Regions from separate parts of the Homo sapiens genome. Here all the other regions are reported to be linked to region 5. Evidence: microRNA targets listed by miRTarBase, many of them from high-throughput screens and not tested one by one. Region 5 holds a microRNA gene; each other region holds the end of a gene's coding sequence.

Region 1 (4,104 bases), not on the chromosome of region 5:
CCCCACAGCCATTCTGGGAGCTGGGGAACCTGGTCTCAAGGCAGGCCCTGCAGTTCCACAGAGGTGGCAGGTCTTGCCCTTTGGCCAACAGATTTCTTGTCCTGCCTTCTAGATGCCTCTGAGCTCCAAACCCAGGGCAGCCATGGCTTCTCATTTACACCAACAGGTTTCAGTTCCAACAGAAAGGTCGGGGTAGGTTCGTGCAGAGATGGGGCTGGCAGGGGGGCTATGGGAGGATTATTTTAACAGATCAAGAAAATGAAGCCAAATCAAGTGAATTAAATTCCTCACAATTATTTTCTTTCCCTGAGGTTTGATTGGCACAGCAGCAAAAGTTGAGGCCACCCCACTTGTGTCCACTGTTTTTAGAAAAAAATGAATGGCTTCCTGCCATTGTGGGGCTGGACTCTTGGGCTTTCTTGGTGGGAGCGGAGAAGGGGCCTCCCACCCTTGTCCGAGTTGCCTCCCACTGGAGGTCAGGAGTCTACACTGCAGCCTCGGGCACTGTGGGGAGTGCATGCCTGGGGCCTCTGGGTGGGGACCATGGACAGGCCCTGGTCACTGTCCTAACCTTTGTCAGGACAAAGGTAGCAAGAGGATTTCCTGGCGGGTGGGAAGGAATGGCTGGGGCGGCCAGTTTTGACACGCCCCAGTGCCCTGGAGAACAACCAGGGTCATCTGCACTTGATGACTGCTCCCCGACCCCCAGCCCGGACACCTCATTCCCCTCCCACTACAGGGATCAAGTGACCTGGGAAGAACCGAGTTTAACACCAGGATGTGTTTCCTTAGATTTCCTTTCCTAGGCGATTTCCAGGGAGAGCCCTGATTGGACAATCACATCACAGATCACACTGCAGTTTCCATGTTAGCACTGTGGATGGGTTTTTAATCAATAAAAACTGGGGGTTTCTTCTCACCGACTCTCCACTTGCCCAAACTGCCAAAAGCTGGTGATTCTGGGACAGGCCTTCACTTTGGAGCCACGGGATGGGGTGGGGGAGCCCCATGGGCCTGGGAAGGAGGGTGCTGTGGAGGGGGCTGCAGGGCTGACCAGCAGGCAGCCTCATCTGGTCGGGGGCGGGGGCGGCAGGAGCAGAAGCGGGGTCTCCGTCCTTGGGACTGTCCTGGTTGGCCACGGGCCCTGAGGATGCACGGTGCCTGGGGCTCCTGTGCCGGTGGGCGGGGGGCATGCTGGCCTCTGAGCGATCAGGCGAGGCCAGCGAGGGTGTGCTTGCAAATTCAAGCAATAAGAGGGGGGTTCCTGGGGGCTTCCAGCCCAGGCTAGAAGCCCCCATGGCTTCTGGCAGCTGGACATCAGCCCCAGGTATTGGGGTGATTTTGGTCATGACAGTGTGCCTGTCCCACTGTTACACGCATGAATGGGGGTTATGGGGTGGGGGTGGGGACTCAGGGCTGGACCGACGTCCTAGTGGACCTGATGTGAAATTCCTGTCAAACAAACACCACTTTTCAATGGTTTGCTAGGAGTATTTCTGTATTGAAAGTTTCTAATTATGCTTTTTAAAAAAATACTAAAAATAAAGGTTCAAGCTGCCAAATTTTCTTCCAGGGTCTGTTTGCTCTCCCTCCAGAGATGTGCTGAGTGGCCGTGGCTTCTTCCCACCCACCGTGTCCTGCTCTTCCCTGTTCTTGGCCTAAGTCTTGCACAGGAGCCTGTCGAGGCCCTTGGGACACTTCCAGAAGCCAGGTCCATTTTCTCCATGAACAGGTGGGCCAGGGTTGAGTCTCCCCCTAGTTGGACTGGGAGCACATGTGGTAAGATGCCAGGGGAAGCTCCGTGTTTATCCTCCACATGCCTGGAAGGATGCAGTGGAAGCCTTTGCCTGGCGTGGTTTCTTTCTGGCTTGAAGTTTCTGCCAAGCTTTAGGGCCCTGCTGGCCTGGGAAGCAGCGTTGGCAGGCCTGCCTTGCGGATGGCACGCTGCAGCACTGGCAGGGGGCAGTGCCAGGCGGGAGGGGCAGGGGAGGATGCCCTTCCTGGCCAAATCCCTTGGTTAAGTAAGTACCAGCATCTGAGGTGGCCCGGGTGCAGGGGAACCACTATTGCTACCTCTCCAGCAGCAGCCAGTGGTGAGTCTGACATGTCAGCTGCATTCAGACCAAACCCGCCCCCCGCAAATACCCAGAGACTGAGGCAGGAAGCTCTGTAGAAATTCATTTTATTCTTATTCAGACTATTTTCAAAAGAAGCAGTGGTGTGCTGTTTTTCTAAAAATATGCCTTTATAGATTTTTATATATGTATATTATAAAATCCATACATGTATTTACATGATTGCTACATACAAAATTACAGCACTGTGGTATGTACACATCTACAGGTACATTCTTGCCGCGCATCCCTGCTGTGCTTTCCCCACGTGAGGGAGGGAGGGAGACTGAATCGGTTGTGAGCAGCTGAGGGCTGGCCGGGCCGCGGAGCCTCTGAGTTGGGGCCTGGGTGGAGGAGGAGGGGCGGCTGCAGAGGCAGGAGCAGCAGCCACTGCAGGCTTCTGCAGGCAGGCAGGCAGCATCTGGAGGCTTCCGGCAGCCTCCCCCTCCCCTCCACCCCGTGGTGCCTGTGCTGCCCTCAAGGTGGGGTGGCTGACCACAGACCCCTCTGGTGCCATTCAGTGGCCTGGACTTGTTTGGCTAGGCCAAGAAATTATGTATGTATGTGAGGGGTGGAGGAGGGAGCTGTGGGAGGAGGAGACCCCGTCCAACCCCAGCCCTGAGCAGGGGAAAGGGCTGGATGGCTAAAGCCTGCAGATGACTGGTGATAACACTCTGCCTGGCCAGGCCCTGCTAAGGGGCAGAGACTGAAGGCTGGGAGGGAGAGCAGTGGCGACAGGGGGACAGGGCCTTCTTCCTCCCTGGGGCTCGGGTGGCCTCAGCTGAGCTTGGGTAAGCCCCGGCTCTTAGACCCTGCGGCCAGAGGCTTGGCCTCCTGCCAGCTGAGGTGCATGCATGCGGGGGAGGGGCTGCCATCTCTCCTTTGACCCTGGGCCAGGGGCTGGGGAAGGAATGGAGGCTCAGGCCTGGCCCGCTGCCCCCACAGGTCTAGGCCCCTGGGGCTCAGGCCTCCTGAGGCATGCAGAGAAGGGCCTCCATTCCTTCTGTTCCCCATTTGCTAAAATCAAGGAGGCAGCAGTGCCTGGGGGTGGGCTGCGATCTGTTGGGTGTGAGCTGCAAAGCCCAACACCAAGGGGCCCCTCTGGGAGGTGGCCTAACCCTGCTCAAGCACGTGGTCCTGGAGAAGCCCAGGCGTGGGCTTGGCCAGGCGGTGGGCCAAGGGAAGCCTTCAGTGGCCAAGGCAGGCCCCCACCTCTAGGTCTCCATCCCCACCGACGAAAGGGAGCAGGCCCTCCCGGACCCATGGGGCCCTAGCATGAGGGGCAGGGCAGCTGCTGAGGTGCAAGCTGCAGGGGAGGCCTTGCCTGCACCGCCTTTCCAGCTGCCTCCAGTCCACCCATCTTTGGTGGCCTGACTCCTCCCAACTTAAATTTTCCTGAAGAATGAGAAGAGTCGTTTGCCTTCAGCGATGCTGGGCTCATCCCCCCGCCCAGCGCTGTGGCCCCTGCAGAGGGCAGCAGCCGGCTGGCTCCGTTCTTTCAGGTGCGTGTCCATCAGCTGCCGGTCAATGACCCTGTGCATGTCATCCTGCAGAGGGGAGGGGACAGTGGCCAGGACTGAGTAGCTGCTCTCACCTAACCCTGGGGCTGGACAGGGAGGTGGGAACATCAGACAGATGAGAGATGAGAATGTGATGAGTGAGAGGCTGCAGCCGGGACTGCCCTGACCAAGAAAGCGGTGAGCGTGGGCAAGACACCAGGCGCACGCAGGAGCCGTATGGCACCTCCAGCCTCCTCAGGCTTGGGCTGGGTTCTCCTCAACAGTGTTACTCCTGCTGGGCCGCCACAGTCCTCAGCTGATGGCTCGGGTGGTCTCTCCCTGCAGTCTCCACACTAGCACTCCACCTGCTCTGACCAGGCCTCACGGCTCTGCCTCCTGTGTCCTGTGGGCCTGGCTGGTGCCTCCGGTTTGGCTTGCCACCCCCAGCCCCGGCAGGCCCTAGGGCCACCTCAGCTTAACAGCTCCCCAGC
Region 2 (4,104 bases), not on the chromosome of region 5:
GCGCGGCGCACAGCGCGGAGCTGAAGAGCTGCTCGGCGCGCAGCCCCCCGAAGCCGAGGCGCGCGAAGCGCAGGGCCAGCTCGGGCCGCGCGCGCCGGCTGTTGTTGCTCACAAACAGAGCCGCCTTGCCGGCCCGCGCCAGCCGCTCCAGCAGCTCCGGGGCGCCCGGCACGGCGCGCTCGCCGTTCCACAGCACCCCGTCACAGTCGAACAGGACCCCCTGCGCCCGGCCCAGCACGTCGCGCAGGGCCGCTCCGCGCAGCCTCTCGCAGCGCGCCATGCAGCCGGCCGGCCGCCGGCCTCCCGCGCCGCGCTCTCTCCGCGGGCACGGCGCGCTCTCCCTGGCACGTTCCACGCAGCCGCCAATTGGCGCGCTGGAAGGACCGGGGGGCGGGGCGACGGCGTGGCCTGCAGCCAATGGGGGCGAGAGTCTGGGAGAGGAGCGAAGCCGCGAGCTAACGGAACTTGGAGAGAGGGGCGGATTCGTGGCCAACACCGAGGGGAAGGGACCAATGAAGAGCTAGCTTGATCCTTCTCCCCGTCCCTGGTTCTGCTGGACCAGTCGCCGCCGAGTTTCAACGCCGACTACACTCTTACGCGGTGGGAGACTGACGCTCTTCTTAACCAATAAGAATCTACAAACAAAACGCGAAGCGAAAGGCCCCGTGCCCTCCAGCCAATCAGAAGCTTAGGCGAGCTGGTTGCTGGGAGAAAAACAGATGTTAAATGAACTGCCTTTGGGTCGAATCTCATTGCCCCCTGAATCGTGGACGCTCCAGTTCAGAGCGAAGTCCCAAGAAACGTGTGTGTACGATGGGGTACGAGGCACATGGTGTCTTCTTGGGTGCTGGAGCCCTCGGTCTAGACCAGTAGTTCTTCACACTGCGTTAGAGTCCCCTGGGAACTTATTTTCAGATATCATTTACATATAGTAAAATGCATAGATCTTAAATGTACAGTTCAATGTCTTGACAAATGCTTTTGAAATCACCGATGTGTAGCAGGACAGATCCTCATGTAAGTGTTTTGGGTGAAGACTGGGCATTTTTTGGTTTGTTGGTTAGTTGGTTTAATTCCAGGGATTCTACCGTGAGCTAGGATAGGGTAGGGAAGCACTGGGCTAGAGGCTGGTAGGCTGTCACTGCAGCACGCCCCGGGAGGGCAGGATCCAGAATGGTCGTGGCCAATTGCCCAGAATAGTAATGGGGTGACCCAGGTTGGCTGGGTCCCTGTCTTAGGGAGGAGGCCTTGTGATCTGGAAGCAACCACAGGTCTTGGGACCTTTGAGGAGCCACTGGTCTGCAGTGTGGGGATGAATGAATTGTGAGCTGTGGTGTCACAGTTTTGAAGTTGTCTGCCAACTTCAGATAAGGCTGTGACCCCCAGGAGCAACTGGAGCTCCAACGACTTGGGAAAAACTGTACCTTGTACCCAACCTTGGAAGCTCAACTAGCTCCTATTCCCCAAGTGCCCTAAGCCTTTTGCTCCTGGCCTTTGCATAGATAGTCTCCTTGGCCTGAATGTTCCTTTTTCCTTTAAAAATTTCACCTTCAGGGCCGGGCTCGGTGGCTCACGCCTGTAATCCCAGCACTTTGGGAGGCTGAGGTGGGCGGATCACGAGGTCAGGAGATCGAGACCATCCTGGCTACGGTGAAACCCCGTCTCTACTAAAAATACAAAAAAAAAAAAAAAAAAAAAGAAAAAAATTAGCTAGGCGTGGTGGCGGGTGCCTGTAGTCCCAGCTACTCGGGAGGCTGAGGCAGGAGAATTGCTTGAACCCAGGAGGCGGAGCTTGCAGCGACCTGAGATCGTGCCAATGCACTCCAGCCTGGGCAACAGAGCGAGACTCCATCTCAAAAAAAAATAAACAAAAAATAAAAAATAAATAAAATAAATAAAAATAAACAAAATTCACCTTCAGGTCAGCTCCTGAAAGACTTCCCTTAAATATCACCTTCTCCAGGAAGCCGTTCTTAACCACCCACCCCATACCATGAGTCTAGGTTATATGGCCACCCCTAACTTGGCTAATATGGGCTCCCAGTGCAATGACACTTGATTTTTTTTGTTTTTGAGACAGGGTCTTACACCGTCACCCAGGCTGGAGTGCAGTGGCATGATCACTGCTCACTGAAGCCTCCAACTCCTGGGCTCAAGCGATCCTCCTGCCTCAGCCTTCCTAGTTGCTGAGACTACAGGCACACGCCACTACACCCAGTTAATTAAAATTTTTTTTTTTGTAGAGACAGGGTCTCACTATGTTGTCCAGGCTGGTCTAGAACTCCTGGGCTCAAGTGATCCTCCTGCCTCAGGCTCCCAGTGCTGGGATTATAGGCATGAGACACCGTGCCTGGCCAGACACTTGATTCTAATGGTTGCTTCTGCCTGTCTGTTTGGGAACTCTTTGGGTGTAGGGTTAAGTCTTGGAGCTAGCTCAGGGCCTGGCACAGAGCAGATTTAGGGAAGGTTTGAGGACAGATCCATCCCTGCTCCTTGGGGAGGCTTCCCAGCCTCCTCCCGGAAGGAGAGTGAGGGGTCCAGGAAACAGTGGGAGCGGTAGGGGCTTCTGTGGGCCAAGGGTGGTGCTTTGGTTTTCAATGGAGAGCAATACCTCTGTGGAGGGAATTGTTATAAAGTTTCACAAATGAGGAAAAGGGATACCAAGAAGTTAAGTAAATTGCCCAGAATGTGAGGGACAAGCCAGGCTTTGGAGTCAGACCTAGGCTCTAATCCCAGGCCCCTGCCTGACTGCCGTGTGACCTTGGCAGGTCACTTCTGTCTGGGCCTCAGTCTCCTCACTGCTAAGAGGTAATGGTATTTCCTGCAGTAGGAGAAGATTAAGTGGAAATCATCCACAGAACAGCACAGCATGTAGTGCAGAGAAAGCTCTAAAAATGTCTGCTGTGATCTCACTTCAGACAGGAAGAAAGGAGGCAAAGAATATGTATTGTTTTCCCCTTTATAAAATTGGCTTCTTTATTTCAAGGACAGAAAATAAAACTATCATTTGGGCAGCTGCTCCAGTTTTGTCCAAAATAATTTATTTACCAGCCTTACAAAAAACATGTCGGCAAGAGAAGAATCAGTCCCGTAGGAGCAGGCAAACCTCTCCTTCCTTCCGGTGGCTCCCCTAGGACCTGCCGGAGAGTGGAGAGTCCGGTGGGGGGGTCCCCAAGCCCAGGGTGGACGAGGAAAAGGTCAGGAAATAGAGGATTGTCCTGAGCCCTCCTGGCCATGGGGGCCGACCCAGTGGGCACTGAGGCACTTGTGGGCAAAGGCTGGAGGCCCATGCCCCTTTGTGGGGGGCGAGAGCTGTCCTGGGAGGGCCAGGTGGGGAGGGAGGGGGTGCTGAGGGCTGCTTAGGGAGAAACCAGCCACTCAGTTGGTCTCTGAGGCAAGGCTCCTGGGGCGGGGCTGAGGGGGGATAGCTGGGGGAGTGGGGACCCCACTGATAGCCTCAGGGGCTCCTCCCTCTGCTGTGGCAGCCCCCAGGTCCACCTGTGCAGGGTTACTCAAAGAGACTGGGCTGGGGGAGGCTGGACCTGGGGAGGCCGGGCTGGGGGAGGCTGGTGAACGCCGGCTTTGGCGCCGGGCAGGCTGAGGGGGTGTGGGGGGTAACGGGGGTGGCACTGTGGGGGCTCGGAGGCTGCTGCCAACCAGACGTCGGGGCAGGGCTTGGGGGGTCCCAGGGCTGCCAGAGCCAGGGGGCAAGGGCGGGGCTGGAGGGGAGGAGCGGGAGCCGGAGACCTGGGGGGGCGGCATGGTGGGCCGGGCTGGCGCCGGGCGCTTGGCTGTTGAGGAAGGAAAGGGTGAGGGAGGCTGAGTGTCCACGTGGCCTGTGGTGAATCCACCAAGCTCCGTGCCCCCTCACAACCTTTGCATCTGCTGTTCCCTCTGCCGGGAACACCGTTTCTGCGGCTGGCTCCTCATCGTCTAGGCCTCTCCTTGTGCCCTTTGCCCCCTTGGAGGCCCTCCCCGAGCACCCTAGTTAGAGTCCCACCCCATGCCCCACCCCAGCTGCTCCGTCACATTTTCCAGATGTATTTTCTTCGCAGGACTTTTTGTTCTCTGAAATTATCTTGCCCATTTATTTTGAATTTTTAA
Region 3 (4,104 bases), not on the chromosome of region 5:
GTGTTCTTTAGCATTCACATGTTGACTCCCCCTAAGGATTGACCCTCCCTCACTACCTCAAAGCCAGCAGGTGGCCATGGGACCAGCAGCAGCCTCCTTGACACTGAACCACCTGCCCACCGGTGCCGAAACCCGCCTTCCCAGGGGGACCAAGCCTTTCGCTTGCAATGAGAATTAAGGCTTAAATGCAAATATCCCTGGAAGAAATACACAAAGATCCTGCATTCTGATCCTTTCCTGAGAGTGCTGTGGTGGGGCGGAGGGCAGGGGCACCAAGAGGGAGAGAAAGGGCGCAAAGAGGAGGGTGGGCCTGCCCCCAGCTCTCTTGGTGAGCTCCACAGAGCCTGCCCAGGCTCAATCCGGAAAGCACCACCCTCCTCAAACTTGGTGGGCCATAGGGCACCTAGGGCGCTGTTGCAACTACAAAGTACATATCAGGCTGAAGATGCAGCCTGGAAATATATACAGTTTTATAGTGTTTAGGTCAGTTACCTTGTGGGTCAGTATTACTGGTGTCCTCTTTAATTGGAATCATTATTTTCCCAAGGAGAACAGAGAGAGGAAAAGCAGGCTTTGGGGAAATACCTTCCCCTGCTTTGAATTAGGAGCTGGGATGCTATGTATGCAGTGAGGTGCTAGTGGATATTTTCGGAAGAGATTAATTTTAAAAGGAAAAGGCATACACTTTGACCAAGCTTGCTCACTAGCAAAGAACAACTGCAGAACCACATTACAGAGGCACTATTTACAATGCAATGGAACTCGACATTTTTAAACTACTTTGAATTCCTTTTTCACTGAAACTGCTTGATAGATTTACACCAAGTTACTCCTCAGCCAGCCCAACAAAAGCCTCATCTTGATATCATTTATATGTATGTACAAATGTGCCACCATGATGTAACGTGTTATGGAATTCGATGGTGGATGAGAATTCCATGACCTGTCTGTCATTTCTACTCTGAAACCCGGGACCTTCCTGGCCATGAGGAATTGATAAGTTCCTTCTTCACTTTTCTGATCCCTCAAAAACACAAGTGTGTGGCACGGACCTGTCGTTCTCTTTGAAGTCAGAACATTGAAGGTGTTTTGTGCTGAAGACAGGAGAGGTGTCTGTGAAGGAGAGCTGGATGCTGTCCCTGGCATCGGCCGTATTGCTTCTGGGCTCCTGGAGGAGTCAGAAAAGGGAGAATCCCAGCCCCCAAGCTCAGGGTGGCAGTGGGGAGGAGGGAGTCCTGGCTGCACCTCTCTGGACTTCAGGGAACTTTTTTCTGAAAGAGGCCACCGGATTTGAGGGCATTACCCTCCTGCACTTTCCACTTCTCTCCTGACCTGGATGCTGCTCCCTCAAAGGGGTTAGGTTCAGGGTAGCCCCAGGCAACTTGTGCTCCAATGATGGGCGATTCTTCTGCAGAGCTGGGGCCACCTGGTGACCTGGGCTGTGGTGATGGTGGAGGCTCCACAGCCTTCCCCAGGGCTCCCCTGTGAGAAGCTGCTGTCACCAGGCAGCCCTGCCTAGCCCACTCTCATTCTGGGGGCAGGGTGTAGGCCTGTTTTTTTTTCAGAAGAGAGCTAGACACTTCCCAAAGCTGATGGCTTCCTTGGCCCCAGGAAAGTGGTGGCTCCTCTTCATCCTCAATCTTTAGGGATCGTCTCCATGCTCCAAGCAAAGGCCACCCAGAGCTATGGCTAAGGATGAAGCTGCAGGGATATGGGAGACAGAGGCAGAGGTGCGGGCAAGGACACAGGGTCCCAGGTCTTGTGTGTCACCACCAAGAGCTCTGGACAGGGCTCTGGGATGGGAGGAGGAGACCCAGAAACCGCTTGGTGAGATGACAAGGAAGAGGCAAGACCTAGACTTCCATGAAGCAGATAGCTCCCAGGCTCCGCAGCAGAGACTGCAACACAGCACCGAGCAGCTCCTGGAGACGGGGCAGCTGGCCTTGCCGGCCACATCTGCAGAGACAGCGGACCAAGCAGCCTTGCAGACCAAGAGCATGAGCTTTGAGGTAGGATTGTCGGGCCTGCTGAGTGGAGGGGGGGTACCTGCATGGCTCCGGCAGGCAGTTACTCAGAAAGCAGGCGCGGTGTCTGAACAGGAAGGCAGAACCAAGGACGCACAGTTGGTGCTGGTGAATGGGCGAATTTTATAAAAATCCAGTCCAGCAAATTGACAAGTCACTTCTCAGCCTCAGAAATAAAATGCTTGACAAAATATATTCTTTTTAAAAGGAGAGAGAAATGTTACTACCAGGTGGAGCTGGAGGTGGCAGGTGACTGGGAAGATGAGAGGAGGGAGGAGAGGAAGGGTTCCCTGGGAACAAGAGCCTGGCAGGCTCAAAACCCCTGCCATGAGCTGTCTCTGAGAGGTGTGGATGAATCAATGTGGATCTCAAGGGAGAAGCCTGGTGTTTCCAGAGTCCTGCCCTGGCAGGTCAGACTCGGCACACCCAGTCTCACAGTGGGAAGCTGGGAGACAAGGTACCTGATACTGCCCTTCTATTTCCTGCCTTCCCCAGAGATCCCGCCCACTGCATCAGGGCAGAGCCGTCCCGGCCTGCCACAGGGGCCACTTGTGTTCATGATGCTTTCATAATGACAATAGGGTGGACTGACTAGAACAGGCTTTCCCAGGGTCTCCCATTTTAAATGCTTATGAGTCTGAGAGTGGTTCAGCTCAGAAGAGCAATCTGGATGCATTTTCAGTTAACTTCTTGGGCTGCCAGTTTCAGAAAGGAGCCATCACCAGGCGAAGACCTATGACATAGTTGTTAAAATTCTTGTGTTTTCACGTGGATTTAAGAACTAAGAACTGAGTGAATTAATTTTAGGAGACTGTCATGCCTGTGTGTGTGTGAGAGAGAGAGAGAAGGAGGGAGGGAAAGAGAGCGAAAGAGGGAAGAAAGAGGCAGGGATGGAGGAAAGTAAGAGAGAAGGAGGAAAGGAAGAAAGAGAGAGCAAAGGAGGGAAGGAAGGAGAGAGAGAAGAAGAGAGAAAGAGAAGGAGGGAGGGAGAAGAAATGAAGGATGGAGGAAGAGAGAGAGAGAACACAATTGGCTGATTAATAAAGGAAGCCATTTTAAAAGGTTCTAACACTTCAGTGAGAGAGGCAAAAGTCAAGCATGAATGATTAATGTCCCTTTCTATCAATCCTGCATTGGGTCTGCAAGTGGCAGGTGCTACTAAAGACTCTAGGACCAAGAAGCTAAAAGATAACTTTCTCAGCATGATGAGAATCTGCAATCTCGGGACTCTGAGGAGGCAAGGTCCCCACGGAGGGCCAACACCCGGGGCGTGGGATTACAGCGCAGCTCCTGACTGCCGCTCTCAGGAGGCCAGTCTCAAAGTCTACCTTCCTCTCCCTCCAAAAAAAGACAAGCTTTGAAAACAGATGGCAGGAAACATAGACATGAAGCCCGAATGCTGACTCCCTTGAGAAAGGTCCTTCTTGGGGAGTGTTCGTAATGTCTGGGTGGAATAAGGGTGACACACGTACCTTCCTTTGCCACTGACAGTGGCAGCTGTGAGCATGGCCCGTGGACCCATTCCCTGCGTCCCCAAGAAAATGTGTTTCTATGACACTCCACGCTGCCAGGTTGCACCCATGATTTGCATATCCTGCTTTTGTGGGTTATTTGAGCTTAGTGAGAATGGTGGGCGTTTTGCCTGTGAATGTCACTGTCACAGGCACAGTGCCGAGCTGGAGCGGGGCTAATTGCCTGACAGCTTTGGCCGCCCCAGGTTAGTCGGCACTTCCAATCCTGTGTGCAGGGTGACCTGGAAAAGAAGACAGGGCAAGTGAGGGTGGGAGAGGCTGCCGCAGGGACCCTGAGGGCTCTGACAGCACCGCAGACACCGGCAGGATCCCCTGCTGGCTCCAGGGCCATCCATGCAATAGCTCAGGGCTGCTGTGGACTGTTGAATATTACGTCCCCCAGTATTCCTAATTAAAGGCTATGTTGGTTTGCACCTCTTTCCTCATAATAAGAATCACCCAGCTGACTGGTTCCTCATTTTGCCAGAGCTGCCACAGCTGGGCAAAGTAGACGCCATCACAGGAGCACGGCTCTCACGCACTGGCTCCCGTGGTTACATATTTGTGTC
Region 4 (4,104 bases), not on the chromosome of region 5:
TGCCCCCTGGAAGCAAGAGGAAGGAAGAATCCAAGGGAGTTTATATGGTGGATATTCCACCCAACCAAAATCCAAAACTGACTGTTCCTTTCTGTTGCACTGGAGTTGCTTGAGCCTCTGTGTCTCCCCCTCAGGCTGGGCCACTCCCATGTTGAGATCCTACCTTGAAGGAATGGGAACATAGAGCTTGGGAGGCCCTCTGTAGAGAATGCTCCTGTGAAGCAGAGATTTCAAAGGACTAAAATCTTCATTTTAAATAGAGTTAATTTTGCAAAGGGTTGCAATTGTTTCTCATGATCTCTGCTTCTCTAGAAATGTCTCTCATTCTCTGCTGAGTTCAGGTCTCCAAATAACTATGGGTGTAAAAGCCTGTTTCCTACTTGCATATTTATCTTTCAGATCATTTTGTAACTATCTCCCTCCTTTTTTCCCTCGCTTCCCTTATTCAGCAAATATTTGTTGGTCTCATGCTCAGTCCTGTTTCTGACATACAGAATGAGAGTGTGATGTTCTTGCTCTTTTTCTCTCCCAGCAAAATGTGAGCCAGCATGTCGTCATGGAGGTGTCTGTGTTAGACCGAACAAGTGCCTCTGTAAAAAAGGATATCTTGGTCCTCAATGTGAACAAGTGGACAGAAACATCCGCAGAGTGACCAGGGCAGGTATTCTTGATCAGATCATTGACATGACATCTTACTTGCTGGATCTAACAAGTTACATTGTATAGTTTCTGGGACTGTTTGAATATTCTATTCCAATGGGCATTTATTTTTTATCCTGTCATTAAAAAAAAAAGACTGTTATCCTGCTACACACTCCTGTGATTTCATTCTCTTTTATTAATTTAAAAATAATTTCCAGAAATGTGCAGATCCTCTGTGTGTATGTCAGCATGTTTGTTCACATATGCACATACACATACTCATAACCCCTATATGCGTTGTTGCATAACAGATGATTTTTTAAAATATATACTTCCTTATGCAAAGTAATTTACACAGAAATTCCATTGTAAATTGATAATGGATTTTTTATGTTACTAGAAGAGATTATTTGACTTCCCAGGAATTTTCTGTCTGTAATCACTAAAGTCAACTTTAATAGAGTTTTGAAACAGTACTGTGCAATCCGATGGATCTAATTAAAAAAAAGGCAATATTTTTATATTAAAGTACTATACTAGGAGAGAATGTTTCAGAACTCCCTGATGAATTTCTAAGTGAGCAACTTGATATAAAATTGTAATCTTCATTTTTGTCAGTGTATCCAGTTACAGAATGCTACACACTTACCTTTTTATTGGCTGAGAAATCTGGTTATTTCATCTTAATCTCAAGATTGTTTTCAAGTGTTTTATAATTAAATCATAATAGCATATTTTAAAATCAATCTTCCTAAAAGGTCTGCTTTTATTGTATATTTTATTTAACAATAGGCACTGGGTTTGTGTTACATATTTATATATTTTATTTTATTTTTATAATATAGACATCACCTAGATGAAACACCTTTACCCTGTCCTGTAAAACACTAAAGTTACATTTTTCACCAACTTAATTGGAAAGAAGGGGAGTGAGAAAGCAAACAGTCTTTAATGTGCTGTGGATCTAATCTAGCAAGGTATCCTTGTGCCAACATGTAATCATTAACGACGGATGAAAAAGCAAGAAAACAGCCAATCCTTATAAAATTCCAGCATTAAACATTTGTAAAGTGCTTTTCACCATAGCAAGACTGTCAGAGTCTATGTTATTAGAATGTTGCAGATTTCCACTGAATCGAACCTCACTGGAGAAGAGCTCACTTGTTTTTAAAAATCTTGGCTATGTAAGCTGTCACCTGTACAAATTTTTAACATAATAATTCTTGCCAAATATGACTTTAAATGTACGTGTTCCTTCAGAACTCAATGAAAATACTCTTTGGCTAATGTATCAATAAATTTTCTGTAAATGTTCTGTTCAGGGTTTTACAGAGATGACATGTTCTGACTTAAAACTGCAAAAAGTCTAGTAGATATTTTTCTTCATGGTTTTCAAAGCCAGCTCTCCACGTTTGGATTTTAACAAAATATAAGGCCTCTTTGCACTAGTGAAAAAACACGTCTACTCATGACAAGTGCACACCCACTATGGCTGTCCTTCTTCTGTAAACATCCATTCCTCTAGAATCTAAATTGTAGAGCAGTATAGATTATGCAGCGCCAGCTGACTTTCTAAACCTTCTCCTTACCTTTAGGAATACAAGCCTCAATTTAAAAAATATATTGTAGCTAGTATTTCTCTATTGTTTTAAGGTGAGAGATTTGCAATTAAAGCCCAGTAAGCATTTATATAGAAGCCACAATGTAGAAAGATTGGTTAAGTACACTGCTCTTGTCTTCCATATATGATTACTTAAGTTTCAAGTGACCTCATGCCAAATGGAAATGGGTTGAGAAATCTTGGTTCAGTGCTTAGTGAACAATAGCCTGCATTAAAAAGTGCATGCATAATTTTGCACAATTTAGATTCAATTGACAGTCTATTCAAAGAAGTCTCAGGATTAAATGAGCATGGAGACCAAATTGCCCTCTTACCCCAGAAAAGGGGTGGTCCCTTCTAGTCACACTAACACTTCATTGGCCCAACAGTGTGACAAATCTTGCAATGAACCATGCAGTAGCCTGCATCTGTAGGTTAATAGCAATCTTTTGTCTCCATTGCTTTCTCTTCATAGCCCTTTTACTGAATTCCATCACAGAAAGTTTTACAATTAAAAAAAAATGTCCTGACAACCATTTTTGTAAATGGACCTTACCATCTAATTGTCCCTTATTCAACGTGGGTGACATTAACAAAATGTGAACTTCTTGTGAGGGAGCCAGCTGTCTAAATCTGTCAAATCGTGCAGTTTTATTACACATTCTCCAATTCTTCCTAGTTTCCCTGAAAACAATAAGGATACTGCTATATATTCAGTAAAATCTAAAAAAATCAAGCATTACTTCTTACATCTTTAAACTTTCCATCTCCTCCCCAAAATAAAAGGTGTTCTATTGCCATTAGTTCTACTGTTTTAAAATATCTATATTAAGTTGACCAGGCCCAGATTTTTTATACAGCTTTTTCCCAAGTGAAAGATTTTCAAGTGACTTAGAAAAACATATGTGCCCCAGGTGTCATTGCCTTTTCTTTTGTGAGTCATTAGAATGAAAGGCCAAGTTCTTCTCAAGAGAAGATAGCAAGATCCACGGATATTAAGCCAAGCAAAGAAAGTAAAATCATTGGAGTCATTTCTTTCTGTTCTTAGGAGAAAAGTAGATAGCACTGGCTAATTGATGGCAACATATTTTAAATTAAGTGGTCAATTCAAAAATTCTCTTTGACCTTTTCTTTCAAGTAGATTTTTTTAAATGCATGACTGGAGAATTATCTTCAATGATTCATGATGAGAGGCAGGTAGGAATTGGTTAAGAAGTATGAGCAGGAAAAAATTATTGTTTAATCACATGAAAGGCAACATCTGTTCAGTTCATAAAGCACACAGTCTCGAATGGAAGAAAAAAAGGTCCTTCGTAAGAATACTGATGCATAAGATAAAGACGAAATAATGAAAAAGAAAAATGTATATTATTATTCCCTTGTCCATTCTCAAGTTTAAGCTGCGGTTGTCAGTTGAATGTGAAATGATGTTATAGTTGTTTTAAATGGTTGGAAATAACCTTTCTACTACTGTTTCTGCCACACTGTTGTCCTGGTTCATAGAACCTTGTTTTCTTGACAGTTATTTAAGGTAATAAAAGGAACACAATTTGGCAGATCTTTAAGTGAAAGAGAGAAAAAATTTAAGAAATTGAGTGATGGCTAAAAGTAAGTGCTTCCATCCATAACTTTTCTTCTTGGATTTTTTTCAATGTAATTATTGTAAAATATATTTTTTTATTTTATCATGAAGAATACTCGGAAGGTTTCTCAGATTAATGAGTATCTCATAAAGAGTAGAGAAACCAACACATACAATATATACACACAACCTAAATAGAAAACTATTTTCTTTGTCATTTGCATGCCCCAGAGAAGTTACTTCTTCCCTATTTATTTCTTTGAAAATAATTACAAAATAG
Region 5 (4,000 bases):
TAATTCCAGTGTTTGAAATGGTAGGTAATTATTATTTATGTATTATCTGTCTTTGTAACAATGGCAAGAAATATAATAGTAAGAAACCAGTACTTAAATCAGGTTAGAATGGTAATGAGAGGTGTTTTTTAGCTTCAGAGGAAGATAGTTAATGAATCCCATTTTAAACAATGAAATCTACATGAGACAGAACTTCTGAAGATTTATAGACTAGTGTTCCACACATTTTTTGAAGGAATTTTTACATTAGGGCTTTGTTCTTTTCCTTGAAATTGATAAGAAATAAAATTTTGGGAGACTAATACTGGAAGCAACTTTATTGACCAAGAGTACTCCACAATCTAGCCTTTAGCCTCCATCTTAGTCCATTGTGTGTGCTCCTTTTTGAATTGCTGAAAGTTCCCAGAAGGATGCAATTGGTGGTTCATGTGGCTGAGCGTCAAGAAGATGAATAAAAAGTAGAAATACAGAGTTTGCTCCCTAATAATCCTCTTTCCCAAGGCCTGTGGCTCTTAGAGAGGGCTGCTCTTTCTCCCTTCCCTTTTACCCACCCAGTCCCACTTCCATCTCATTCAGAGTTGGTTAAGGAAGCTCTCTATAGGAGCTCTGAGCAGCAGATGGGCTGTATTTGAATTGTTGTTTTTTCCTTCCCCACAGTAGGTGAAAGTCCTTTACCTTTGTTTCACCAAATTAGATTGGCTTTAACACTGGAAAAAACACTGAGGGGAATTGGTAGGGACACAGATTAAATGCTCTAAGTGGTTCTAATTCATTCAGACTTCCAAGAAGAATTTTGCTAAAAGTCCTTCATAAGAAGCTTTTTAAAGGAAATTTGGTAACCAAGGAGTGAGAAGTGCCATGATATTCTATCAGATATTAAAACCTGGTTATGTGATAAGACTGAATGGTCAATTTCCACAGTGGAAGGAGATTAATAATGGTTGGCCCTTGGCTGGGAGTTTAAGGCTGCAGTGAGTCATGATCAGGTCACTGTACTCCAGCCTGGGCGATAGAGCAAGACTCTGTCTCAAAAAGAACCCCAATAAACAACAAAAAAAGATTGACTCTTGGGAATGACAAAAGAATTGGTTATTTTCAGCATCTTATTCAAAGTGGCAGCTTCTTTAATAATAATGACTATAGGGTGTCTGATAGAAAAAAATTACTTTTCACCTTTAGTGTTGATTTATGCATTATGAATGCATACTTGTCCTATATTCTCAAGATTCAGCAATCAGAATAGATAAGCAAGTATACATTTGTGTAGCAAATATACATCTATTTGAATCATGATTTTTTGGAGTGGGCTTGCTTTTAAGTAAGTGCCACAGATTAAAATAGGTTGTTAGAATTTATTTCTGTGTTAATTATGTTCATATTAGGATTTCAGATTTTTGTGTTACGGTCTTTGTTCTTAAGGGCTAATTTATTTACTTAAGGGCTAATCAATAATGAATACTGTCCCTTTTTTTCTGACATATTTTCCTCAAGACTCATTAAATAACTTCTTTAAATTCTTGGTTGTAAGTTACAGAAATTCAACTCTAGCTAGCTTAAGTAAAAATAATTGTTTGACTCATGTAACCAGTCTGCCAAAGGAATAGGCATGTATGTGGAATGTCACCTGTGTGTTTTCTCTGCATGCCCTCTTCATTGTTCTGCTGAAGACTGGTCTCTTCATGTGTGAGGGAGGAGGTTGGGTATTGAGGGAAAACAGGGGGCATAGGCTATGTCTACATCTTTCCACCTTTACAGAAGAAAATAATCTTTTTTTTTTTCATAATTCAGAAATCTAGGGTTAGGAGCTAGATTGAGCCAGGTTGGGTATGATAATCATCAATAAAACTATCTGGTTGGGGCAGGGGGCGTGGTATAGGGAGGAAGAACAGTCATGTCCAGAAAAGAGTGAGTTTGTAAGACACATTTTCCGGAGGTTTTGTTTCGTTTTCTGTTTGGTTGTTTATATATTCTAGATATTAATTCTTCTTGTCTGTTAGATATCTTCTCCCAATTGGGGATTTGTCTTTTTCCTTTGTTTATAGTGTCTTTGTTATAAAGAAATTAAAAATCGTAATGCAAAACAATTTCTCAATTTCTCAGTATTTTTTGTTATGTGATTTTTTTTTTTTTTTTTTGAGACAGGCTCACTCTGTTTTCCAGGCTGGAGTGCAGTGGTGTGATCTCAGCTCACCACAACCTTTGCCTCCTAGGTTCAAGTGAGTCTCCTGCCTCAGCCTCCCAAGTACCTGGGATTACAGGTGTGTGCCACCACACCTGGCTAATTTTTGCATTTTTAGTAGAGATGGGTTTTCACCATGTTGGGTCAGGCTGGTCTGGAATTCCTGACCTCAAGTGATCTGCCTGCCTTGGCCTCCCAAAGTGCTGGGATTACAGCCGTGAGCTACTCTGCCCGGCCTGTTATGTGATTTTTGATGCAAGAAAATTTTTTTTCCATCCCAGTGTTCTAAGAGAATCTCCTATGTTTTCTTCTTTAACCCGTCGAAAGTCCATTTTTATATATGGTATTAACTGAGGATCTAATTTTATCTTTCTTCTATATAGTCTGTTGGCTCAGGCTGTTTATTGAATCCTTTTTCTACTGATTCATGATGCTATTTTGGTCACACAGCAACTTATCACATATGCATGGATCTGTTTCTGAGCTCTTTATTTTGTTTTAATGGTGTTATTTGTACCTGCACCCAAACCATGCTGTTTTAACTCCTGTAACTTTATAATACATCTTGATAGGAGGTGAAGAGATTCTCTCATCTTGCTATTCAAAATTGTCTTTGTGGCCAGGCATGGTGGCCCACGCCTGTAATCCCAGCACTTTGGGAGGCTGAGGTGGGCAGATCACGTGAGGTCAGGAGATTGACACCATCCTGGCCAACATGGTGAAACTCCATCTCTACTAAAAATACAAAATTAGATGGGTGTGGTGGTGCATGCCTGTAATCCCAGCTAGCTCAGAGGCTGAGGCTGGAGAATCACTTGAACCTTCAATAGCTAATTGATTGAATTTAAGAGAATTATCTTTGCAATGTTGTGTTCTTATCTGTGAACCTAATATTCCTTTCATTTATTAAAATCTTCATTTGTGTCCTTTGATAATGCTTAGCAATATATATAGTCCTTAGAGGTATCATATGTATTTTGTTAGATTTATTTCTGGGTATTTCATTTTTTTGTTGTTGTCTTTTAAAACAGTAGCTATTTATTTATTAAGGTTTCTAGTTACTGGTTGCTGGTGCATAAGGATGTGATGTATTTTTCTTTTTTAATTGACCTTGTATTTCCCTGAACTGATTCCCAATACTGTCTGCCTGGAAAGTGATGACTTCTTTTTTAAGACCTGGCTCAAATTTCATCAACTCTCTGAATGTCCCAGATATTCAGATAGCTAGGTGCTTTTCTTTATGTTTCCATAAGCTCATATGTTTCATTTTAATATAATTCCTTTTGTTTGTGTGGTAGGTCATTGAGGATAGTGGTTGTGTCTTACCTATTTTTGTCTGCCCTGTTCCCAGCATAGTGTAGCTCATACAGTCAGAGTTCACAAATCATTAGCTAAATGGGTGACTATGTGGAAGACTGTAATACCACTACAGAGAGAAAAAGGTATTTCTTTTGTGGGAGCTTTGTTCTGTTTTTTCTTCTCTGGTTATTTATTTGTTTATTTATTTCTTAATGGCAAGGTTCTCTAGTGTCTAACCTTCCCTTTTCGTAGTAATTAAATGAATGACAATGATAACAATAGCTAATATGTATTGAGCACTTACTATGTCCTGGTACTATTTGAAATATGTTACATTTGTTAGCTTATTTCTTTCAACAACTCCACTTCTGATATTACCATTTTATAACTTTGCATGTTCTGAGGAGTTGGCATATCCCAATAAACAATGATTTGTATATCCCAATATGCAAAAATTTCGTGGAGGTAGGATTTAAAGTGCACTTAAAAGGTTGGAGATATCTTCAACTTGGTCTTTTGTAT
Region 6 (4,104 bases), not on the chromosome of region 5:
ATATTTTCCAGTTACTCACTTGGGTGATCCTGAGGCTCTGTCAGGTCTGTGTCTAAATTTCCTCTGTAAAATGGGGATCTGGCCCACTAGAAGTGGGAAGATCACTGAAACGTGAAAATCACGCTGAGCCACTGCCTTCAAAAATATAAAAACACATGACAGCTTTGCATCTAAGGAGCTTTTTGTGTATTCTAGCCCCACAGGAAGCCCCAAGTCAGCCGCCCGCTACATACTCACTGGTAAATAAAGTTAAAAATAAGAAGACTGTTTCCATCCCAAGCTACATTGAGCCTGAAGATGACTATGACGATGTTGAAATCCCTGCAAATACTGAAAAAGCATCATTTTGAAACAGCCATTTCTTCTTTTTGGCAAAACTGAAGAGGGTTCACACAACTTATTTTAAAACAATCAAGAATGGTTGAACTTCAGTAGGTCTCTGGGCCCTGAAAGCCAGTGGTGATTTTATGAAGCTCTATAAGATAAAGCACTTCCCAAACCTTAGATGAAGACACCCCTGCGATCGGATGACTGCAGCCAGAGGAGACACATGGGTGCTCGGCTCTGAGGACTTAGAGGGGTCAGCCTTGTGCTGTTGAGGAAACTTTCCATGGGAAGGACCACGGGGCTCCATGGCTCCCACCTGTGGGAAACTACTCATTTCTTGGCATTCTTTCCCCCTTCATTCCCTTTGGTTTGCATGGTTCTGAGTGATATTAAATCTCAGCATTTGGTTGTGCAGACCCTCCCAGGCTCCCATCCCCAGCAAGGCCCTCACCAAGCATGCTGGTCTTTACCCTCTCACCCCACCCACCTCCTGCACTGTGAGGCTGTGGGTGAGTTACAGCTGAGTGCTCTCGTGCCCAGGTTCCCACACCACATCTCGCGAGTTTGCAAGGGCAGGGAGTACCTTTTGTTCTCGTGAACCCTCCCCACCTAGACACCCTGCAAACCCCAGTGCCTTTATATGATGTAGGCCAAATTGACCATAGAGATTTGAGTTTTCACCTAGGTTTTCTCCCCGTGCTTGCAAGTTGTACTGTAACAATGGACAAAGGACAAAAGTTACCTTCTGATTTACACCTAGAAGCATCATTTTGCAATAGGTGTGTTGGGGGTGCTACAGGAAAAATACATTTCCCCCAGGACAAATCATGGGGAACAGGAAAGAAAAGGGGCATGTAACAATGGCATATACAAGATGAGAGTTCAGGGGGCTTAATATCCCCTGTCCATCATTTTCATCAGTACTTACTCGAGTTCTAGGAAAACAGCCTCAAGCCCCTTCCTTCCAGATCACTGTCCCTGGGCATCTGGGAGGAGGCAGAAGGTCCACTGTGATGTGCTGCAGCCAATGAGATGGGCCAGGGACATGGGCAGATGTCTTGTTAAACAAGTGTCCTAATGGGGTCAACAAGGCCCGAGTCAGCTTTATAGGCTCTTAGACCTCATCAATTCCTTCTAGCTGATCGCCAGAGCCCTAGGACTTGACTCATTCTAACTATACTCACAAGATGCTGGTTTCTAAGTGACCTCTGGGAAATCTGGCAAATGAACAGCCTTGCAGAGAGAGCACTGTGAACCTGGAAAGGCCTGAGAGTGACTCAGATTTCCCTCAAGAGATGGGAAAATGTGTTCCTCCCATTTTCAAGCTTTCTCCCTCAATCAACGCTGGAGCACTGGGGACCTGGGCTTCCTCCCTGGTTCTCTCTTTCCAGACTCTATGAAGGCTTCCACCTTGCTATTAATACCTCCTTGGGAGGCCAAGGTGGGCGGATCACCTGAGGTCGGGAGTTCGAGACCAGCCTGACCAACATGGAGAAACCCCATTTCTACTAAAAATACAAAATTAGTCAGGCATGGTCGCGCATGCCTGTAATCCCAGCTACTTGGGAGGCTGAGGCAGAAGAATCGCTTGAAACTGGGAGGCGGAGGTTGCGGTGAGCCGAGAACATGCCATTGCACTCCAGCCTGGACAACAAGAGTGAAACTCCATCTAAAAATAAATAAATAAATAAATAAATAAACCCTCCTTATGTTAGGCCAGTAGTTATCTAACTATGGCCTTATGGGACTCTGGTATCCCACCAGCCAAAGAGAGGACTCTTCCCAAATTATAGAACAAAAATAAGCCAAAGGATTGGAGTGTTTCAAACACATGCTTTCGTCTTATAAATGTTCTGTAAACCCTCCATGACTATGACAAAAGTTAAAAACAAATGCCAGACAAATGTTGATTCTTCCTTGGTTTCTGGGACGCCACCCTCTCCTGGTTCTCCTCCTGTCTCCGTCTCATTTTGGGGCCACCCACTCTTTCTGAAGCATCTCTTCAATGCTGGTCTTCCTCAGGTTCTGTCCCTGTGTCTCTGCCCATCTGCCTCCAACACTCACGAGTGATCTCACCAATGTCCATGAGCTCAGTGGGCCCCTCCTTTTTTTTTTTTTTGAGACTGAGTCTCATTCTGTCACTCACGCTGGAGTGTAGTGGCACAATCTCAGCTCACTGCAACCTCCCCCTCCCAAGTTCAAGCGATTCTCCTGCCTCAGCCTCCTGAGTAGCTGGGATTACAGGTGTGTGCCAACACGCCTGCACCCGGCTAATTTTCTGTTTGTTTTTAGTAGAGACGGGGTTTCACCATGCTGGCCAGGCTGGTCTTGAACTCCTGACCTCAAGTGATCCGCTTGCCTCAGCCTCCCAAAGTGCTGGGATTACAAGTGTGAGCCACCACGCCCAGCTGCCCCCTCTATTCTGACTTCAGCTGAGCTCTTTCTCCCCAGCTGGGTTGCCTCTAAGACATCTCGTTGTGACTGCCCCACACACCCCCTCAAGTTCAGCAAACACCAAAAGGAACTGATGACCTACCTCCAGTCCCAAATGTCTTGTGCTCTACTATCTTCTTAGTTGCTGAAGTCAGAAACTAGTATCCTTCTCCCCACACTGCTTTGTTTCCAGAGCTCCCCATGTTACTTGTGCCTCCCACGTGGTTCTCCAATGAGTCCACGTCTCTCCGTCACTGTTCTGAGGTCAGACAATTGCCAGCGCTTGCCAGGAGAATATCAACAGCCCCCTGACTGCTCCCCTGCCTCTGGCACCTCACCTGCCGTCCACTTTCTACATGGCACCCAGTGACTTCCTAAAGTGAACATCTGACCACTTCATTCCTTTGCTTAAATCTTCTCTTTGCCCGTTAACCCCAGAAAAAGACCAAACTCTTTAACATGGCTTACAAGATTTGTCAGGATCTGGTCACTGATTATCTTTTGCCAAACTCTTCTCCCCCAACCCCCTTGCAACCTCCACTCTGCCCAAGTTTTTTGCTCCAGCCACTTAAAATGACCTTCACAGGCCGGGCGCAGTGGCTCACACCTGTAATCCCAGCACTTTGGGAGGCCGAGGTGGGTGAATCATGAGGTCAGGAGTTTGAGACCAGCCTAGCCAAGATGGTGAAACCCCGTCTCTACTAAAAATACAAAACGCAGCCGGGTGTGGTGGCACATGCCTGTAATCCCAGCTACTCGGGAGGCTGAGGCAGGAGAATCACCTGAACCTGGGAGGCAGAGGTTGCAGTGAGCCTAGGTTGCACCACTGCACTCTAGCCTGGGTGACAGAGCAAGACTCCATCTCAAAAAAAAAATAATAATAATAAAATAAAATGACCTTCACTATGGTCCCTCTTGCCCTGTGCACAGCGCTATTCCTCTGTATGAAACATTCTTCCCCACCTTTGGATCCTTCCCATTTCATCTTGGCTACCCTTTCCTCATGACCCAACTTGGGTTGGTGCCTCCTGGATGCTCTCCTTTCATAGCATTAGCATGTTATAATTATTGCTTATCTGTCTCTCTCCTCCACTAGACCCAAAGCAACATGAGGGCAGGGAATGTGTCCTTCTTTCCTCTACTGTTTTCCCTGTTCCTAGCACAGTGCCCAGGTACATTGTAGATGCTCAATAAATATGTTGAATAATCAACTGGGTTGAATGAATGAATCAATGAACTCTGAGCTCTCACAGCTCCCATACTTGGCCCTATGGAAATACTTCTCCCTTTGTATTATAATTATTATATATTATAATTATAATTACCTGGTTACTTTCCATCCTC

Evidence for each region. Region 5 holds the annotated microRNA hsa-miR-6133 (UGAGGGAGGAGGUUGGGUA, at 1,685-1,703, shown strand). A microRNA usually pairs through its seed, bases 2 to 8, with sites in the 3' UTR of a target mRNA and lowers its output. Matches are read on the target gene's strand: a 7mer-m8 pairs with bases 2 to 8, a 7mer-A1 pairs with bases 2 to 7 and ends in A, and an 8mer does both.
Region 1: miRTarBase lists BICDL1 as a target of hsa-miR-6133. Seed matches in the 3' UTR shown: 7mer-m8 at 2,832-2,838, 7mer-m8 at 2,692-2,698, 7mer-m8 at 2,393-2,399, 7mer-m8 at 2,389-2,395 and 8mer at 2,384-2,391.
Region 2: miRTarBase lists SH3BP1 as a target of hsa-miR-6133. Seed matches in the 3' UTR shown: 7mer-m8 at 3,336-3,342.
Region 3: miRTarBase lists TRIM67 as a target of hsa-miR-6133. Seed matches in the 3' UTR shown: 7mer-m8 at 3,008-3,014, 7mer-m8 at 3,004-3,010, 7mer-m8 at 2,873-2,879, 7mer-m8 at 2,293-2,299, 7mer-m8 at 1,227-1,233 and 7mer-m8 at 277-283.
Region 4: miRTarBase lists HHIP as a target of hsa-miR-6133. The part of its 3' UTR that is shown has no 7-base or 8-base seed match.
Region 6: miRTarBase lists SCIMP as a target of hsa-miR-6133. Seed matches in the 3' UTR shown: 7mer-A1 at 1,612-1,618 and 8mer at 1,657-1,664.

What each region holds. Positions count from the first base shown.
Region 1 is chr12:120,092,557-120,096,660 of GRCh38, reverse strand. It overlaps BICDL1 (BICD family like cargo adaptor 1), which reads right to left. Exons shown (of 10, transcript NM_001367886.1): 10 at 2,167-3,661. The coding sequence ends at 3,500. RAB35 (RAB35, member RAS oncogene family) reads left to right here. Exons shown (of 6, transcript NM_006861.7): 6 at 1-1,562. Among named protein-coding and RNA genes, the nearest start is that of RAB35, 22 kb to the left of the region's middle. RefSeq lists enhancers at 2,577-3,220, 3,221-3,864.
Region 2 is chr22:37,654,959-37,659,062 of GRCh38, reverse strand. It overlaps SH3BP1 (SH3 domain binding protein 1), which reads right to left. Exons shown (of 18, transcript NM_018957.6): 18 at 2,946-3,791. The coding sequence ends at 3,379. PDXP (pyridoxal phosphatase) reads right to left here and starts at 340. Exons shown (of 2, transcript NM_020315.5): 1 at 1-340. The coding sequence starts at 280. It overlaps PDXP-DT (PDXP divergent transcript), which reads left to right and starts at 686. Exons shown (of 6, transcript NR_109952.1): 1 at 686-808. RefSeq lists a silencer at 154-463 and enhancers at 1-465, 654-703, 714-783.
Region 3 is chr1:231,215,048-231,219,151 of GRCh38, reverse strand. TRIM67 (tripartite motif containing 67) reads right to left here. Exons shown (of 10, transcript NM_001004342.5): 10 at 1-3,777. The coding sequence ends at 3,712. Among named protein-coding and RNA genes, the nearest start is that of FSAF1, 24 kb to the left of the region's middle. RefSeq lists enhancers at 1,476-1,975, 3,667-3,776, 3,690-4,104 and a silencer at 2,507-2,566.
Region 4 is chr4:144,737,232-144,741,335 of GRCh38, forward strand. It overlaps HHIP (hedgehog interacting protein), which reads left to right. Exons shown (of 13, transcript NM_022475.3): 13 at 533-4,104. The coding sequence ends at 726. All of the region lies in intron 1 of LOC124900791 (a long non-coding RNA gene), which reads right to left. Among named protein-coding and RNA genes, the nearest start is that of HHIP, 93 kb to the left of the region's middle.
Region 5 is chr7:133,289,267-133,293,266 of GRCh38, forward strand. It overlaps MIR6133 (microRNA 6133), which reads left to right and starts at 1,615; the gene lies at 1,615-1,722. The region is part of intron 3 of EXOC4 (exocyst complex component 4); the gene reads left to right.
Region 6 is chr17:5,207,047-5,211,150 of GRCh38, reverse strand. SCIMP (SLP adaptor and CSK interacting membrane protein) reads left to right here. Exons shown (of 5, transcript NM_207103.3): 5 at 196-2,231. The coding sequence ends at 350. ZNF594-DT (ZNF594 divergent transcript) reads right to left here. Exons shown (of 6, transcript NR_152840.1): 2 at 1,256-1,401. Among named protein-coding and RNA genes, the nearest start is that of ZNF594-DT, 17 kb to the right of the region's middle. RefSeq lists a silencer at 2,543-2,722.